2 separate regions of the Homo sapiens genome follow, and region 1 is linked to region 2. The links come from fine-mapping of genetic effects on gene expression. A gene starts in region 2. The other region holds a variant in brackets. All regions are shown on one strand. Distances are between the middles of the regions.

Region 1 (8,636 bases), 26 kb after region 2:
TAAATATATACAGCAGTGACGAGATGTGCCCTGACATCAGAAATATACAATCTGGGGTGTGTTTCTCTGTGGATGAGGACATGCAATAAAGCAGCTTGGAGTGAGCCGGCCTCTCCCGGGGGCTGAGATCCTGGGGGAAGAAGGGCTTTTTGAGTTTGACCTGACACCCTGCGAGCAGCTTTTGAACCAGCTGAAGCTAATGGGAAGGTGCTATTGCCACCTTGCCTCCGCCTCCCGACTCCTTTTTCCCCCAGAAGGTAATGTCTTAGCACCGGGGCTTCTCTCTGCAAAATGGGTGCAGCCCTCTCAGTGTTCGTGGCTCCTCCCAGAGAATGAAGGAGGCCAGAGCGGGTCAGCACTCTCTCTGCCTTGGAGCAGAGCTTCTGAAATGGACTGCACAGCAGAATAGCCCAAGAAGTTTGTCAGAATCCAGACTTCCAGAGCCCTGCCTAAAACCAAGTCAGAAACCCCGAGTGACACCTGGGAGTCTGCGTTAACTGGCTCCCTGAATGAAGCACCTGCAGCCCGCCCTGCACCAGGTGTCTTTGAGGACATGAGCTGAGGAAACCCCGACCACTTGCAAAGGGGGAAAAGTCCGATGGCAGCTGGACCTAGAAAGAGTCTCATATGGCCCAGTGCCTGTCCTGGTATTTTCAACAGAGGCTGTGGCCACAGTCAATCTGCATGGTCAGATTCATTGTTAGGACTAAATGCTTTAAGCCTCCTATAAACTTTTTTTTTTTTTTTTTGATGCCCAGCCTTTGTGTAAGTCTACTTGAAAGGGTTTCAGGGTTCCATGGATACTTCTTTGCTATAAAGAGGATGACACATGTAAAATCACCTTTATGGTTAAATTAATTGGCTTTTATATTAGCTCCTCAAAGCAAAGCAGGAGAGACAGAAATTTCTGCAGTTGCTTCTTGGTCCTGTCCAAAGCAGACATCAGCCTCTGAACCATCAGCAGTCTTCCTAGTGGCAGTGACTCTCTTCCTCTTCTCTTCTGCAGCCCCGACACGTCTCTGCTACTGGACTGTGGTGAGGGCACATTTGGGCAGCTGTGCCGTCATTACGGAGACCAGGTGGACAGGGTCCTGGGCACCCTGGCTGCTGTGTTTGTGTCCCACCTGCACGCAGATCACCACACGGTGAGTGTTGGGCTGGACCACAAAGCTGGAGCCTGGAGGAGGCACTGCCACGTTGAGTTGGCCCTTTGGCTGCGTCTTTTCCTCCGCTTCCAAACTTGCCCAGAGCTTTTGTTACTCATCTCTGGCTAGGAAATGGTTTTTTGCAAAACTCAACATAGTCCTTCTGCGCCACAAGAATGTCTTCTCTTCCTGTTCAGTTCCTTTCCTGCAGCAGGACAGGTTTGAGTTTACCCAGCCTTCCTTGAGTCTTGAATCTCACACGGCCTGCTCAGCGGAAGCTTTGACCGGATGCAGGAGGTGTGGCTATGAGACCCTCACCTTGGTCTCCTGGGGTGCCGGGCCCTGGGCCGTTGCCCTCTTCCCAGCACGGGTCGTGTCGCTTTCTGCCTGTGACATTTCAGGGCCATGGCGCAGGGGGCTCGGCCTGTGCCACCCCCACTGCGGCTGTGTTAGAGGCTGGTGGGTGACGTCGGGCTGGCAACTCCTGCAAGAGAGAGGGCTGCAGACCCTAACCCGGAGGGGATGGCCCTGGGGCCTGGCTGACGCATGTCTCCTGTTTCCTTGCCAGGGCTTGCCAAGTATCTTGCTGCAGAGAGAACGCGCCTTGGTAAGTGTGGCACTTGATGGGCGTTCTGAGTTTCAGCGGTTTACACATCATCCGCCATGCCTCTTGGCACTCCAGTTTTTATTGAGATGTTCTGTCGTCGAGTCGGCACTTGCATTTTTTGTTCCAGGCATCTTTGGGAAAGCCGCTTCACCCTTTGCTGGTGGTTGCCCCCAACCAGCTCAAAGCCTGGCTCCAGCAGTACCACAACCAGTGCCAGGAGGTCCTGCACCACATCAGGTGAGCATCCAGGGCAGCCTGGCCCGCTGGGCTGTTGCTTGCTGCCGTCTCCTTCAGAAGCTCAAGGTGGACACTGGGGTAGTTACCAATATCCCCCAGCAGCCTTGCCCTTGACATGGTCCCAGATGGCAGAAGCAGGGGAGAAGTGCATTGGCTGAAGGACAGAAACCATTAGATAGTTCCCATGTAATGCTTATTTTCTTAGAAGCATTTCTTCCCAGTCCTCATTTGAGTTCTGAGCTGCTTTCTAAACTTCGAGCAGCTTTTCTTGATGAGACAGTTCCAGAGCCAAGCACCCAAATAGTGGCTAGCACAGAGAATGTCCATAGCAGGTGTGTGGCTAGCTGGCAGGTGGCACCATCCTCACCCCAAGGGGAAGGAGTCCCCTCTGCTGGAGCCATCCGTGGCCCGTGCTGCCTGAGCCGGAGGCAGCATTCACCTGCTGGGTTTCTCCCAGTGGCCTAGAGGCTTTGGTTTGGCTCTTTATATTTGACTGCTGTTTCCTCATCATAGTGACTATGATTTAACTCATGTTTTCTCCTAAGAATGATTTTGGGGTTCTCCAGCCAAAGACTTAAACTTTGGTTCCAGATGTCCAAGAAACGTTTATTATCATTTTAAATGTTTTGTCTTTTTACAGTATGATTCCTGCCAAATGCCTTCAGGAAGGGGCTGAGATCTCCAGTCCTGCAGTGGAAAGATTGATCAGTTCGCTGTTGCGAACATGTGATTTGGAAGAGGTAAGGGGCACAGCCGCAGGCATCATGGGGGCGAGGTGGGGAGCAGAGCTGCAGAGCCCTCCAGCCCCACCCTTTCAGTTTCAGACCTGTCTGGTGCGGCACTGCAAGCATGCGTTTGGCTGTGCGCTGGTGCACACCTCTGGCTGGAAAGTGGTCTATTCCGGGGACACCATGCCCTGCGAGGCTCTGGTCCGGATGGGTGAGTAGAGGAAGAAGCAAGCCACCCTGAGGTTGCTCTGGGGTTTGTGTAGCTGGAGGTGAATGCAGGTGGGCTTGCAGGGAAACGTCAGCAGAGGCAGGAGACTCAGGTCCCCACCCTCAGAGTCTCTGGTTGTCATCCTAGTAGGCAGACCCAGGGCCAGGGGAGCTGAGTGTTGAGACCAGGAAACAGCACGTGACTGAGGCCTGTGTGCCGCTCTCGCAGAGAACTCTGCCCTGATCCTTGTGCTGCTTCTCCAGGGAAAGATGCCACCCTCCTGATACATGAAGCCACCCTGGAAGATGGTTTGGAAGAGGAAGCAGTGGAAAAGACACACAGGTAGCAAAGGCCGGTCAGTCCTTGTCGCCCACATCCTCTCCCTCCCCCACTACGTGACACTGAGCAGCCGTCGTTTGTCTCCACTGATGTGGGGCTGCCCTGCTTCCTATCAAGGGCTATGGGGGCTTCCTTGACCTGTGGCAGTGCTCACAGGCTCTTGGCCTTTATTTTTGCAGAATTTTCTAAGCAAGATTCTAGAGTGAGGCACAGTTTTTTGAAAGCATCTAGAAATCGGCTGAATAAACTATAAGCCATGTCAGGGAATTGCCAGGGGAAGGCGGGGGCTGGGGGACTGAATTTTTGGCTGCTAATTTCAACGAAAGAGTGCATTACCCCAGGTGGGCCCTGTGGTTTCTCTTGGGTGCCCTCATGGACAGATTTGGCAGCCAGCACAGAGGGTGGGCTTCATCCAGGGGTGTGTGCGAAGGCTCTGGCCCTCAGGGGAGATTGTGCTGGCTACGGAGGTGCCCGTTAAGAAAACCCACCAGCTTCCCCGGGTGCCCTGGCAGTTGATGGCCAGGGTCTGTGCCACTGTCTGCTTTGCAGTCTTGCAGTTGAGTTCAGCTTCAGTCTGCTCTGTCCTTCACCTGCAGCACAACGTCCCAAGCCATCAGCGTGGGGATGCGGATGAACGCGGAGTTCATTATGCTGAACCACTTCAGCCAGCGCTATGCCAAGGTCCCCCTCTTCAGCCCCAACTTCAGCGAGAAAGTGGGAGTTGCCTTTGACCACATGAAGGTCTGTATGTCACACGGACAGCACAGGGCGGGGACGGGGCAGGGAGACAGGACTCTACACACTGAGTAGGACGGTCAGCTGGAGTTTGCTTTCTTATTTGGGGCCACCGTGGGAAAAGGTTATCTACCCATCACTAACCAGGTCGAACCACCCTGGGTTTGCTGGTGAGACCCACCTCCTGCAGGGGCCAACTAGTCTTCAGTCTCAGTTCACTGGAAATTTCTGAGAATCCTTTTAGGCCTGGACTGCTCACACAGTCATGGCATTTGAGCCTCAGCACAGACCTGTGAGACAGGTGGTTGCCTCTTGTGAGTGGGAAAGCCAGGCCTGACCCTTGGCCTTCCGGAATGAAGGGGCAGAGCCGGAGCCAGGCCTCGTTTTTCAGGAGCTTGATTTTGAGAGCATCTGGACTGCTCTCCCTTCCCTCTCCGGAGGCCCTTAGCCAGGCCTGGGGAGCCTCTGCCCCTTTAGAGGGTTCCCTCCATGCCATTCTTTTTTCCATTTCAGCTGTGGCCTGTTGGCTTGTGCCAAGGAAGGGGCGTTGGCGCTGCTGTGTGAGCACATGACTGCATCCCTTCCAGCTCCTGTCCCCCACCCCTGCCCCTCTGAGACATGTCCTTGTCTTCTATTGTGTCTTCTAGGTCTGCTTTGGAGACTTTCCAACAATGCCCAAGCTGATTCCCCCACTGAAAGCCCTGTTTGCTGGCGACATCGAGGAGATGGAGGAGCGCAGGGAGAAGCGGGAGCTGCGGCAGGTGCGGGCGGCCCTCCTGTCCAGGGAGCTGGCAGGCGGCCTGGAGGATGGGGAGCCTCAGCAGAAGCGGGCCCACACAGAGGAGCCACAGGCCAAGAAGGTCAGAGCCCAGTGAAGATCTGGGAGACCCTGAACTCAGAAGGCTGTGTGTCTTCTGCCCCACGCACGCACCCGT[A/G]TCTGCCCTCCTTGCTGGTAGAAGCTGAAGAGCACGGTCCCCCAGGAGGCAGCTCAGGATAGGTGGTATGGAGCTGTGCCGAGGCTTGGGCTCCCACATAAGCACTAGTCTATAGATGCCTCTTAGGACTGGTGCCTGGCACAGCCGCGGGCCAGGAGGCTGCCACACGGAAGCAAGCAGATGAACTAATTTCATTTCAAGGCAGTTTTTAAAGAAGTCTTGGAAACAGACGGCGGCACCTTTCCTCTAATCCAGCAAAGTGATTCCCTGCACACCAGAGACAAGCAGAGTAACAGGATCAGTGGGTCTAAGTGTCCGAGACTTAACGAAAATAGTATTTCAGCTGCAATAAAGATTGAGTTTGCAATTGTGAGTTCTTTTGCTTCCTCCTGCTGCTGCTACAGAGCAGGGTCTGCTGTGCACCACCTTGGAGAAGGCTCTCTGTGCTGTAGTGTGGCAGCTGCCTGGTACCCGGGTGGCTTGGAAGAAGTCAGCTCCCGTCGTAGTGAGCACCTCTGGAACCTGTCCTCAGAGAGCCACCCTTATTCGCCAAGTCTTTTTGACAACTCGAGCTGTGCCAGCTCACAGCAGGGCGTGCTTTCTCTATCAATCAATCAATCAATCAATCAAATCAATCAGTGAGAGCCTGGCTGGGCTGGTGTCATTGGTCAGGGAAATGCAAGTCTTCTGGTGGTTCTGGGTAAAAGTGGAGACAATAGATTTGCTGTGTTGTTGCTTCCATACTGAGAGGAGTGAGGATCACTTTGCCCTCGAAGGTTTTGAGAAATGGCACACGGGGCTGGTTTCCATTGTCCTCCTTGCGGGATTTACAGACGTGGATTAGTGCTCGACAAATGGAGAGCATTTTCCAAGGAAGTAAGTAAGTAAAGTAAGTAAGTAAGTAAGTAAGTTGAATCTAGTATTTATTGTGTATATTCCCTACCCAGGAGAATGTAAAAAGAAGAGCTTTAAAAACTCAAAAGACAAGCAAGCGAGAGATCAGCCAGGGACCTGGCTTTACACAGGTGGTGACCTTCAGGCTCCATCCCGGTGTGCATTTGAGATTGACGGCCATGTCCCCGCAGGTTTATTAAAGCAAGAACAGATGCCAAGCTCAGGGATAATAAATCTATTTTAATAACGTTACTTTTGACAACGATTTGTACATGTATTTAAAGATAACAACTTTCAACCCCCACCCTTACCCCAGACTCCCATTACAAATTGAGGCATGACCTGCCCTTGCCAGGAAGTGAGCAAAGCTGCAACATCAAAACTCTGCACATCCCACTCTCAGAGGAGGGTGACTTTACACTGTGTTGGGAAAAATAACTAAGCATTTAAATTTTTCATTGTACACCTGTACATTGGTTTAGATTGAATGGCTCAAATTAAACAAATATAGAGAGATTTCATATATACAAATATTATATCATGTATAGGTATATTATATCATCTATTTGAAAAGGATAAAATTTTAAACTTTGACTTTGCATGCATGGCCCAAATCTTTTCTCACTCCCCTAATCCCCAAGTGTGAAAAGGCTACCCGGTGCCCTCCCGGCCCTCGTCCCCATGACCAGATGGGACTTCATGAGAAGGAAATGAGCGGCTGACGCTGGTGAGCAAAGCAGGCCACACCGCAGGCCGAGCCCGTGGGCCAGCGTCTCCGTGGCTGGTTTCACTTTTCCTCCACATGCTTTGGGTAACGTAATTATTGCTATTCAGTTTGAACCTCCAGAAAGAAGAGACAGGCTCCAGGACCCCACAGACTAGTGAACTGGGTGCCTTTAGGTACGTAGAGGGGTAAAATTACTCTCATATAGCCAATATATTTGGGGACAGGGAGGCCACCTTTGGCTCCTCCAGACACTGTCAGGCTTGTTTGTTTTGTTTTATAGATTCAGAAATATAAAATGATATAGGAGCTTTCAGTCACACAGTGGAAAAAGGAAAACTGTTAGGAAGTGAAACATTTTTGTTTTCAGCCATTTACTTTGGAGCCCACTGATGGGGGCGGCCTGAAAGGTTTTCCAGTGGCAAGCCCTCCCCCAGGTAGCTGGCAAAGGTCAGTGCCCCAGGACTGCTAGAATCCTGGACCTGGTCCAGTTGTGGGTGAGAGGGGCCCTGCTGTCCTGCTTCCTTTCTGTGGCCATTAAACTGATCCTGCAAGACCTGACATGAGCCGTCCAAGGAAAAGGTAGCAGCCCTTGGGTCTAACCAGGCAAAGTGAGCCTCTCCCGCACCACCCCGACCCTGCAAAGGACGTTCCTGACCAGCCTTGGATGGAGAGGTGGGTGTTTTCTGGCATGGAGGCTGAAAGTGGATCAAAAGAGGCACAAAGTCAAAAGGCAAAGGTCAAACAAAAGGCCGAAGTCACCACCCGAAAGGAACAAACAAAACCTGCACCACCAGCATCACCACACGGACTGGAGATCACAATTTTCTGCCAAATTCCAACCTCGTGTTGGCAGTGGCAGGAAAGAGCCAGCAGAGAACACTTGGCAAGCTCATGGACGCTGCTCCTGGCGGCGTTCCTAGGGCCCGTGATGTATGTACACGCGAGGCAGGATGGGCGGTGTCATGTCAGAGGGCGGTGCTCTCAGACTCCTCCTCCGAGTCCCTCTTGTCAGTTACTGAGTGTCGCCGCATGTGCTCCAGGGGACTCAGGCGGAGCGTCGACCCGAGCTCTATGTGGATCGAGGGAATATCAAAGTGGACAAGATCTGGAAGGCGGCAGAGAGAGAGGTGGTTGAAAGGAGGCTTCCCGGCAAATGAGAACCTAGTTGTAGGCAAATAATGTCAGCCTTAGGAGGCAGGGGTGCTGCTATTCTAGGGATAGATCATTTGGAGGTTGGTTTAAGCATTGTGTTGCACAGTCGATCAGGTTGTGCTCATGCCTGCTTTGCTTCTACCCCATAAGTTCGTAGAACCAAAGCACCCAGGATACGCCACTGTGGTTCAGAGGAAGGCCAGAACAGCACTCCCCTGCCAAGCCACAGGGTCCTTTATTCTTGATAAGAAGGATGCTGAGTAGGTCTCAATGACACCTTTTTGGGGATCTATATCAGACGACTGCATTTCATTCCCCAGAATCTGCAGGGACAGGACGTGAGACAGTGGACCCCTTTCTCCTCTCAAGCCTGTGAGAGAATGGGGAACCCTGAGCCAGTGTCCTCACTCTAAGAAACAGCTGCATTTTGGATGGCTGACATGGGTGGAGTAGAAGGTCTCCCTCAGGACCCTGGTTGTCATTGGTGCCAACTGTCCCTGACTGCAGGACAACCCCCACCTCTGGTTACATCCTTATTTATTAGGAGCATTAAAAGGTCATTTTTCCCGGCAAGATGAACAGGAGAAATGTACTTGAAATAACAGCTCAGTGTCTGGACGTCTCTGAGTCGGCAAAGACGACAGAAGTCCTTAGACTGGCAGCTGAGTGGACACGAAGCCTCTTTGCCACACCACGTTAAAAAAAATCCCCTTGCTGCTGCAGCCGCCGCCCTGGGGGACACTGACGAGGCTGTGCTTGCTGACTCCTCCAGGATGTGCTACAGCCAGAGAGCCAGAAAACCACAGATCCCCTGGGTCCTTTACTCTCGTCATGCTGTCCCCTTCCTCCGCCTGCTTAGTTTTTTTTTTTTTTTTTTTTTTTTGGGGGGGGTGGAGTTTCGCTCTTGTCACACAGACTGGAGTGCAATG
Region 2 (10,302 bases):
CATATGTTCTGTGAGAAGCCTTCTCTGACACCATTCTTTTTTTTTTTTTTTTTTTTTTAGACGGAGTCTCGCTCTGTCGCTCAGGCTGGAGTGCAGTGGCGTGATCCCAGCTCACTGCAACCTCCACCTCCCGAGTTCAAGCAATTCTCCTGCCTCAGCCTCCCCAGTAGCTGGGATTACAGGCACCCGCCACCACGCCTAATTTTTGAATTTTTAGTAGAGACGGGGTTTCACCATGTTGGCCAGGCTGGTCAAAACTCACTTGTTGAAGCCGTAACCCCCAGTACCTCAGGATGTCACTACATTTGGAGATAGGGCCTTTAAGGAGGTGATTAATTAAACGAGGCTGTTAGGGTAGATCCTAATCCAAGCTCACCGGTGTCCCTATAAGAAGAGGAGATTAGGACACACGAGACACACCAGGGCATGTGAGCACACAGGAAAGACCACATTAAGGTACCGCAAGAGGAAGGCCATTTGCAAGCCAAGGAGAGAGGCCTCAGGAGAGACCAGCCCTGCCCACACTTTGATCTTAGACTTTCAACCTCCAGAACTGAGAAAATTGAAGTCTTGGGGAAGCCACTCAGTCTGTGGTATTTTGGGATGGCAACCTGGGGCGACTCGGGCTGGGCAGATGCTCCATGCCCTCAGCACAGACTCGCTGAGCTCCACGAATTCCCGGGCACCGTGCTTGGCCCTGAGGATCTAAAGGTAATAAAGCTTGGGTGGCATTAATTATGGCAGAGCTGCAACCGCTCCAAGCCTGAGCCAGGCTGAGCTACTTTCCTTTCTTCTTTCTTTCTGGTTCCCGGTGTACAGTTATGCATCATTTAATGGCAAGGATACGTTCTGGGAAATGCCTTGTTAGGGAAATTTGTCATTGCGCAAACATCACAGAGGGCACAAACACAAACCTACATGGTACAGCCTACTGCACACCTGTGCTGTATGGTACAACCTACTGCGCCTAGGCTACAAACCAGGCTGCATGTGACTGTACTAAATACTGCAGGCAATTGCAACACAATGGCAAGTATTTGTGTCTAAATCTATCTAAACATGGAAAAGACACAGTGAAAATGTGGTATAAAAAATCAGCACCTGACCTGGGCGCTGTGGCTCACACCTGTGATCCCAGCACTTTGGGAGGCTGAGGTGGGTGGATCTCTTGAGGTCGGGAGTTCAAGGCTAGCCTGACCAACACGGAGAAACCCCATCTCTACTAAAAATACAAAAAAAACAGCCGGGTGTGATGGTGCATGCCTGTAATCCCAGCTACTCGGGAGGCTGAGGCAGGTGAATTGCTTGAACCCAGGAGGTGGAGGTTGTGGTGAGCCGAGATCGTGCCATTGCACTCCAGCCTGGGCAACAAGAGTGAAACTCCATCTCAAAAAAGAAAGAAAGAAAGAGAGAGAGAGAGAGAGAGAGAGAGAGAGAGAGACAGAAAGAAAGAAAGAAAGAAAGAAAGAAAGAAAGAAAGAAAGAAAGAAAGAAAGAAAGAAAGAAAGAGAGAAAGAAAGAAATTAGCACCTGAATAAGGCACTTACCATGAATGGAACTTGCAGGATTGTAAGTTGCCTGGGGTGCATCAGTGAGTGAATGTGAAGGTCTAGGACATTGCTGTACGTGACTGCAGACTTTTTTTTTTTTTTTGAGACTGAGTCTCGCTCTGTTGCCCAGGCTGGAGTGCAATGGCACGATCTTGGCTCACTGCAACCTCCGCCTCCCGGGTTCAAGTGATTCTCCTGCCTTAGCCTCCTGAGCAGCTGGGGTTACGGGTGCCCACCACCACGCCTAGCTAATTTTTGTATTTTTAGTGGAGACGGGGTTTCGCCATGTTGGCCAGGCTGGTCTCAAACTCCTGACCTCAAGTCATCCACCCGCCTGGGCCTCCCAAAGTGCTGGGATTACAGTTGTGAGCCATCGTGCCCAGCCCAAAGTAACTTTTGTTTCAAAAACCAATTATCCCTCTGATGCATTGTGGCCATCAAGTTTGGAGTTGTTGGGTTTCTAGGGCTCTAAACCAGAAACACCTCAGACCCAATGAAGACAAAAGCATCTATTATAATGTTTTCCTGTGTGCCCTGGGGCCCCATCCCTGTGCCCAAGACACCAACTTTCTGAGCTTTCTGAGAGCAAGACCTTGTTCATCTTTCTGTACACCAAGGTCTTAGTACAGCATCTAGAACCCTAGAAGAGTGTCTAGAAACTCGTGTGTGTGTGTGTGTGAGTGTACTGAATGAATCAATGAATGAATGTCTGTGTGGAGAAAGCCAGAGGGTATTTCAGACAGGGTCCCAAAGTATGTGTCCCTTGGTCAGATCACCAGATCTTGGGGATCGCAGGAACTGCCCCAGCTTTGTAGGTACAAAAGTCTGATTTATAAATATACCCAAGAGATGGCCACATATGAGTGGACTAGCTTATGGCAACCATACTTACAAGCGTGTACAGAAGAAAGTCAAGTTATAAATTATACCTTTGTAACTACAGGCATATGAAAATGTACTGCTCCCAGCATTCATTGGCCAGATTATTCTGCCTGGCAGCCATCTCTTCATAGGACCCCCCCGTAGGATAATCAGAGGGTTCCAAGAAAGCCTGGACTTTTCCACGTCAAGGGCTCTTTTGCAATGTGACTTTGATACTTCTCCCCTCAAGAGGTAGAATATAATTTTCCTCCCTTTGAATCTAGGTGGGTGCTGTCTGTGTCTTGCGTTGACTTCTGGGCCTAATTCTTCAGAAGCATTGCAATTTCATTTCATCCTTTTGGAGGCTGACCACCATTCAGAGAAGCTCAGCCTAACTACTGAATGTGGACAGTCTACATGGATGGAGAGGCAATGGGAAATGAACCAAAGCACCCCCAGCAGGGCCAGTACCCAGGACCCACACCTGTGAGTGTGAGGTTCCACTCCCATTGAGCCACCCAGCAGCCACTGCAAGGAGCAGAGACAGGCTATTCTTACTAAACACAACCGTGACCAACAAAAGGACTGAAAGTGATTTCAAGCCACAAGCTGCCCATATACAAAATGGATAACAAAAAGAGACTCAAAGCAAGAGGAAGTGGCTGTATTATATTAATTGTTAATATCACTGACTTCTGAAAGTCTGTCGCCTCGATTTCCACTTTCTCTGCTGTCCCGATGGTCAGGCTGCCTCTACTCCAGCAAGTCCAGAGACACTTTTCTGTTTCAGACTCTCTGAACTATCCTTTTGGAGGTACCAGTCACACCAATCCCCTTCAGAAAACACATACATTGTTGTCTTGATTCAATTTTAGGCCCTGCTTAGTTGTAAACTGAAAACCTCATTTAAGCTACTGGCTTGCTTCTAATTTCCTAGTATTTATTGTCTGCCACAAGCCAGACTCTGTCCTAGGAGCTAATGATACAGCAGAGGACCAGATAGACAAATCCCAGGCTCATGAAATTTACATTCCAGTATAACCTCAGATTGAAGAAGTACTAGCTATTGTCTTCATATACCAGGAATAAAAATATGACCCAAAGCATAAGTGCAGAAAGTACACTGGGCCCTAGAAACAACCTAAATAGCATCCAGCCCTCAGAATTTTATATAAGTCGATGACCAAAAGTGATTCCTCCTATAATTTTGAGATAAGTAGTTTGAGATTACCCAACAGATAGATATGCACATAGGGCACCAATAAAATAGAGGAACCAATGTATTTTTGTTTGTGAAATTTGATATATTTTTTAAAAGGATCAAAGCAGTCATCACAGGAAAAAAATCAGTATTTTATTTATTGCACTACACTTTTTAAAAGTAGTTTTAATGAATTAATTTTCTTTTTCTTTTTTTTTTTTTTTTTTTTTTGTAGAGAGTGTCTCACTCTGTCAGCCAGGCTGGAGTAAAGTGGTATGATCATAGCTCACTGCAGCCTCAAACCCCTGGGTTCATGTGATCCTCCTGTCTCAGCCTTCAGAGTAGCTGGGACAACAGGTGTGTGCCACCATGTCCAGCTAATTTTTACTTATTTTTAAATTTTTTAGTATTTTTTGGTAGAGATGAGGTCTCGCTTTGTTGCCAGAGCTGGTTTGTTTGTTTGTTTTTGAGATGGAATCTCCCTCTGTCACCCAGGCTGGAGTGCAATGGTGTGATCTTGGCTCACTGCAACCTCTGTCTCTGGGGTTCAAGTGATTCTCCTGCCTCAACCTCCCCAGTAGCTGGGATTACAGGCCCATGCAACCACTCCCGGCTAATTTTTGTGTTTTTAGTAGAGACGGGGTTTCATCATGTTGGCCAGGCTGGTCTCGAACTCCTGACCTCAGGTGATCCACCTGCCTCGGCCTCCCAAAGTGCTGGGATTACAGGCATAAGCCACCATGCCTGGCCACAGAGCAGGTTTTGAACTACTAGCCTGAAGCTATTCTCCCGCCTTGGCCTCCCAAAGTGCTGGGATTACAGATATGTGCCACGGTGCCCAGGCTTTAAGCAACTTTTAAAAACTATCATTTTTATTTCAAATACTTATGGAGATGGTGGTATGATAATCTTTTCAGTTTGTAACGCCCTCTAACTGTGTAAAGTAGATCTGAAGTGTTTTCCTGACCCTCACTGGGATGGTTATTTCAAGTACAAAACGTTTTCACACCGTGGGTGATAATCTTCCATAAAAAATTTCATATTTGAATGAAAACAGCTCAAGAAATACACTAATGAGCAAAAATATATGGGGAAAGAGGAACGTGTAGTTTTGACTTAACTGAAGAAACCAAGAGGAAACTGGTCTCCATATGAAAATGTGATCCTGGAAAGTCAGGTGTCAAGATTTTCGAGTAGGAATCTACATGACTTGAATCTCCCTTACTTCCTGAATAAAAGTGACATCTTTCAGTATTTATTTAAAAAAATCATATGTCAGTGGAGCTTCCAGGTAAATTATCTTTAAAAAATCATATTTGAGTGGAGCTTCCAGGTAAATTATCTTCCTCTTTTAAGGGAGCTCCCTGTATTTCTAGCGGCTTTAACTGATATCCCTTTCAGTGAGAAATCCTCATTAGCTACATAAGAGGGGACTGGGTGTTTTTTTCAAAAAGCTGGTATTGGGACATCTACCTCTGTGATGTCCCTGGTCAGCTATATTGTCTAGGAGTTGAAACATTTTGTATTAATTTTCTATCATTTACTGGGTGCCTCTTCTGTGACAGTGCCACTCAAAGGTCTATTGATATATTATCAGGTGACTGAATTCTATATTCTGAAGTAGGAGATACTGTTATTGCTGTTATTACATTTTACACATAAGAAAGCTGAGGCTCTGAGAGGTCAAGATCACGCAGCTAACAAATGAGCCAAGACTCTTGCTTTAGAGCTTGTCCTCTATTCTTGCTTTTCTTTCCAAAAAACACTACAATTTTTGTTTTGTTTTGTTTTGTTTTGAGACAGGGTCTCGAGGTGTCACCCAGGCTGGAGTGCAGTGGCGCGATTTCGACTCACCGCAACCTCCGCCTCCGCGCTTAAGCGATTCTCCTGCCTCAGCCTCCCAAGTAGCTGGGACTACAAGCTCGGGACACCACGTAAAAATGATCAAGTTCTAACATGTATGCATACGAATTACAATGGAAATAAAATTAGCAAAGCGCTTATGCTAATGCTCAATACAATTGATTTCCTCACATTTAATCCTCACAACCACTACAACCACCTCTAACTCAAGCTCTGAGGGACTGACGTGCCCGGAGGACACAGCTCTTATCTGGTGAGAACAGGAGCGTTTTAGCGAAACTCCAAACTCCTAGGTCCCGCCTTCCCCAGGAAGGCTTTTCCTGGCACTGTGCTTCCGGAAGTCCCGCCCCAGGAGAAAAACAGCTTCCGGAAAAAATTGCGGCCGGCAAACCGGAACAGAACTAGGGGCGGGGCCGCTTGAGACGCTCTAGTATTCCTCTACTCTATGGCCACTGTCAATTGACAAGTCCCGAGCGGTAAAGCTCCTTTCTATTGGATGAGCAGCCTCGCGTAGGCGGGAAGCTCGGTGCACGGCGCGCTGATTGGCTGGATCCGCCATGCGGAGCGGCTAGGTGGTGCACGGGAAACGCGGGCGTAGGTGACCGGCGGCTTTCTCAGTTTTGGTGGAGACGGGCGCATGTGGGCGCTTTGCTCGCTGCTGCGGTCCGCGGCCGGACGCACCATGTCGCAGGGACGCACCATATCGCAGGCACCCGCCCGCCGCGAGCGGCCGCGCAAGGACCCGCTGCGGCACCTGCGCACGCGAGAGAAGCGCGGACCGTCGGGGTGCTCCGGCGGCCCAAACACCGTGTACCTGCAGGTGGTGGCAGCGGGTAGCCGGGACTCGGGCGCCGCGCTCTACGTCTTCTCCGAGTTCAACCGGTCAGTCAACGAGCCACGCCCCGTCCCGCTGGGCCCTCAGTGCGGCGCAGCCTCTGAGCATCGGGGCACCTCCCAGGGCTTCGGCTTCCCTGCTTCACACATGTGGTTCACTGTTGCGGGGGTTCGTGGAGTTATGGTGGGTGGGAAATCCGAGATTCTTTGCATCCATGTGATTTCTGCGGATCTGTGAAGAACTTCAGGCCTGGGTCTGAGCGTCCTTTTCCCAACCCTTGGGCCCCGGCCTGGCTGTCAGCACTTTCGGAGCTCCACCCTCTTCCGTGCACCCCAAGGCCAGTGTGTCGTTGTTAGCGTGTGGGGTGGACAGATCTGGTGTGTAGCCGGTGGTGGAGAAAGGACTCATTTTGTCCTAGCACCCACACACACAGGCCCCCACTCCTCTCCACCTCTGCTAAGGAGGGCTCAAAACCCACCAGCATAAATGTGGCTCGGTAGTCCAACGTGGACTTTTAATTTTTTTTTCTTTTTTTTTTTTCCAGAGTCTACAATAAAACATCTAATTGGTGTCAGAGAGTTTACAGAATAAAACCTTCTGAATGTCTTGTGTAATGTTTGTCTTGTAGGTATCTCTTCAACTGTGGAGAAGGCGTTCAGAGACTCATGCAGGAGCACAAGTGAGTCAGTCTCTTGCTTTCGGAGGGGGAGTTGATTACGGGGCTTGAAAGCCGAAATGAGAGGCCAGTTGTTTTTTATAGCAAAAGTGGTCCTTGTTCTGTTCATGTTATCCTGTTTAAATGTTTTTTCATTCTTAGGTTAAAGGTTGCTCGCCTGGACAACATATTCCTGACACGAATGCACTGGTCTAATGTTGGGGGCTTAAGTGGTGAGTATATTCTTTGCAGTGTCAGAGGCTGGTGGGAAGTCTCTGGGATTTTAACCGGCTTTACCATTTTTCCAAGTCTGGGGTGGGCAGCTACTTTTTTTTTTTTTTTTTTTTTTGTCAGTGGCGTGATCTTGGCTCACTGCAACCTTTGCCTTCTGGGCTCAGGTGATCCCCTCACCTCAGCCTCCCAAATAGCTGGGACCACACGTGTGCCCCATCACACCTGGCTAATTTTTTTTGTATGTTTTGTAGCGACGGGGTTTTGCTATGTTGCCCAGGCTGGTCTCAAACTTCTGCGATCCTCCTGTCTCGGCCTCCCAGAGTGCTGGGATTACAGGCATGAGCCACCGCACCTGGCCTGGAATTCTTTTTATACCAGCCCAGTCAGCAGCAGCACAGAGCATTAAAAGCTGTGACTCAGGAGAACAGATTTTAATATGGATACCACCTCTTAAGTGTTACCATCCACTTAGTTTCTTGCGTTGCGGGGACAGAGATTTGTGGCAGTAAACTGGAGAGTCTAGCAGTGGTGATTACAGTTAATATGTTTACCGCAGACGCCATTGGCACATTGGCAGCCACACACATACCCACTGTCCAGATTACCCTGTCATTTATGTCTATCAACCGGAAGGTCAGGATTGTGTTGCAGCCAAATTGTGTGGGCTTGGTGGCATGGACCGGAAGGAGTGAAGTGTTAGACCAGTCTCCCTTCTCAGGGCTGAGACTAGGGTGAGGCACTTAGGGTGCCAGCCCTTCACTTGCATGATTCCTTACATTTTGCACACTGGGTGCCTTGCTGCTTCACCCTAGTGACAGCTCAGCCCATTCTAGAGGCATTTAAAGAATATTTGGTGTCTGTTACACCTCTAGCTGGCATCACTTCTGCTCTGTACATCTTCCCTGGTTGTACTTCCAAAGCTGGAAGGTGGAGATGTAGATAAATAGTTGGATTAGTACGGGGTGCTCCTCCTGTTAGTGACGACAGGTCAAATTGATGAGAGATCTGATTTTATGCATCCTTTTTAGGAATGATTCTTACTTTAAAGGAAACCGGGCTTCCAAAGTGTGTACTTTCTGGACCTCCACAACTGGTGAGTCTTTCCTGACACATCTTTCAAAAGCAATCTTTCCTTTTGTAATATCAGTAACAAGAATTTTCCTTTTTGCAAATCAGTCTTCTGCCCTCCAGAGATACCTGGTCGTTGAAACGCTTCCCCTTTCAAGTTAAAAAGACTTGAGTTCTGATTAACTATGTGACCTTGATCAAGTTACTTTACCTTTCTGAGCTTTAGTTTATTCATCTATAAGATGACTATCACGTTTCATAGAGTTGTTAAAGATTAAATGACGTAGCAGCACATATAAAGCACTAAATCACTTTATTAGATATATGTTTGGCACCAAGTAGGCACACAAGAAAGGGCAGCTTTTGTTTTTATTCAATAAATTTCTGACATCTTCTTACCTTTCAGTCCAGCTTATTACACTCTTGAGAAGGCGTGTGTGTGTTGTTGAATATAACAGTTCATTTTCCAGTCCTTAAGAAGAAAGTCACCAAGACCTGTTAAGTCTTTCCCCAAAATAACGTTTGAAATCCATCCATTTGTCTCTTATTGAGGCCTTCCTTATTTCTGTTTTCTATGCCTGTAAACTACAATAGCCTCCCATATTCATTCTCGCCTTCCTGTAATCCATCTGCCACACAGCAGCCAGAGAGGTCACTTCAAGACAGAAAAGTAGTGTGTCACTTGCCACCCTAAAGCCCTTCATGGGCTCCCCATTGCAATACAATCAAAACACCTTGATATGGCCTACAAGTCCTGTAGGCCCCGGCCGCTACCCACACTTCCATCTGTACCCATCGCTGAACTGCAGCTGCATGGGCTGACTCTTATGTCCCTCTAACTCCCTGGCCACTTCAGGACTTTCGCCCTTCCGCGGGTTCCCTCTGCCTCTTCTAATTGCTGCCTATATTGTTACTGAACCTTCAGGGCTCAGCTAGAGGGTCATTTACTCCAGAACTGCCTCTTCTTCTCTAGACAAGTTGGATCCCAGCCTTCTGTATTTTTCATTTTCCTTGCAGAGCACTTAGCATAATGCCACTAAGCTGTTTCTGTTATCGTGTTTCCTTTTGTCTCCTCCACTGGCCTGATTAGAGCAAGGCCTCCATCTCTTTTTCCTGCTATATCCTTGGCATCTGATATAATGGATACTCAGTAAATATTTGTAATAAATGATGTTCAAAATATTTACTAAGCTTTGTTTTATGTTGATACCTATTGGTAACCTTTTAAATACTTGAATAGTTGCTGTGTTCTACATTTGTTCAACCATAACTGCTCATTTCTTTGTTTTTCATTAGGAAAAATACCTCGAAGCAATCAAAATATTTTCTGGTCCATTGAAAGGAATAGAACTGGGTACGTCTTTGTCTGTGACTCATCCTCTGCTATTTCTAACTTATATATGCCCTGACCTCTCAAATTAGAATCCATTAAAAACATCAACATCAAACCTCAAAATCAAATGCTTCATCACCACGAGATTTTTTTTTTTTTTTTTTTTTTTGGATAGAGTCTTGCTTTCTTACCAGGCTGGAGTGCAGTGGCATGATCTCGGCTCACTGCAACCTCCACCTCCTGGGTTCAAGCCATTCTCCCACCTCAGCCTCCTGAGTAGCTAGGACTACAGGCGCATGCCATCACGCTCAGCTAATTTTTTGTATTTTTAGTAGAGACGGGGTTTCACCATGTTGGCCAGGATAGTCTCGATCTCTTGACCTTGTGATCTGCCCGCCTCAGCCTCCCAAAATGAGCTACCATGTGGCTGGAGATGGGATTTCTAAATAGTGACATTTTCTGTGTTCCCACCTCATGCTGTAAAAATAGGGGCCAGGTCGGCAGGAGTGATTGAACAGCTGATGCCTGCCTGTGTACATGCTGTGTGGCATTCTCCATCCAGACGGCAGGGCTCCTGCCTCAGTTCCAGAGGTGCTTCTCGTCGTTGAGTTGCTTTGAGTTGGGGGCGGGGGTGACAAGGGTTCCCTAGAGGTTTTGTGGCCAACTTTGTACATTGAAACGCAGCTCCAGCTGCGCAGGGGG

What was found.
Region 1: its variant is fine-mapped to the expression of ELAC2 in whole blood (INTERVAL, PIP 0.97). The same link has a PIP of 0.9 or more in iPS cells.

Annotation. Positions count from the first base shown.
Region 1 is chr17:12,989,056-12,997,691 of GRCh38, reverse strand. ARHGAP44 (Rho GTPase activating protein 44) reads right to left here. Exons shown (of 21, transcript NM_014859.6): 21 at 6,049-7,660. The coding sequence ends at 7,521. ELAC2 (elaC ribonuclease Z 2) reads left to right here. Exons shown (of 24, transcript NM_018127.7): 17 at 1,007-1,145; 18 at 1,714-1,752; 19 at 1,880-1,989; 20 at 2,630-2,729; 21 at 2,808-2,928; 22 at 3,189-3,267; 23 at 3,861-4,005; 24 at 4,647-6,080. The coding sequence ends at 4,874. Among named protein-coding and RNA genes, the nearest start is that of ELAC2, 25 kb to the left of the region's middle. The variant A/G (reference allele first, on the strand shown) is at 4,935.
Region 2 is chr17:13,013,758-13,024,059 of GRCh38, reverse strand. It overlaps ELAC2 (elaC ribonuclease Z 2), which reads left to right and starts at 6,033. Exons shown (of 24, transcript NM_018127.7): 1 at 6,033-6,357; 2 at 6,939-6,989; 3 at 7,128-7,198; 4 at 8,228-8,292; 5 at 9,564-9,621. The coding sequence starts at 6,113. RefSeq lists a silencer at 5,916-5,995 and enhancers at 6,516-6,575, 6,596-6,705, 6,217-6,717.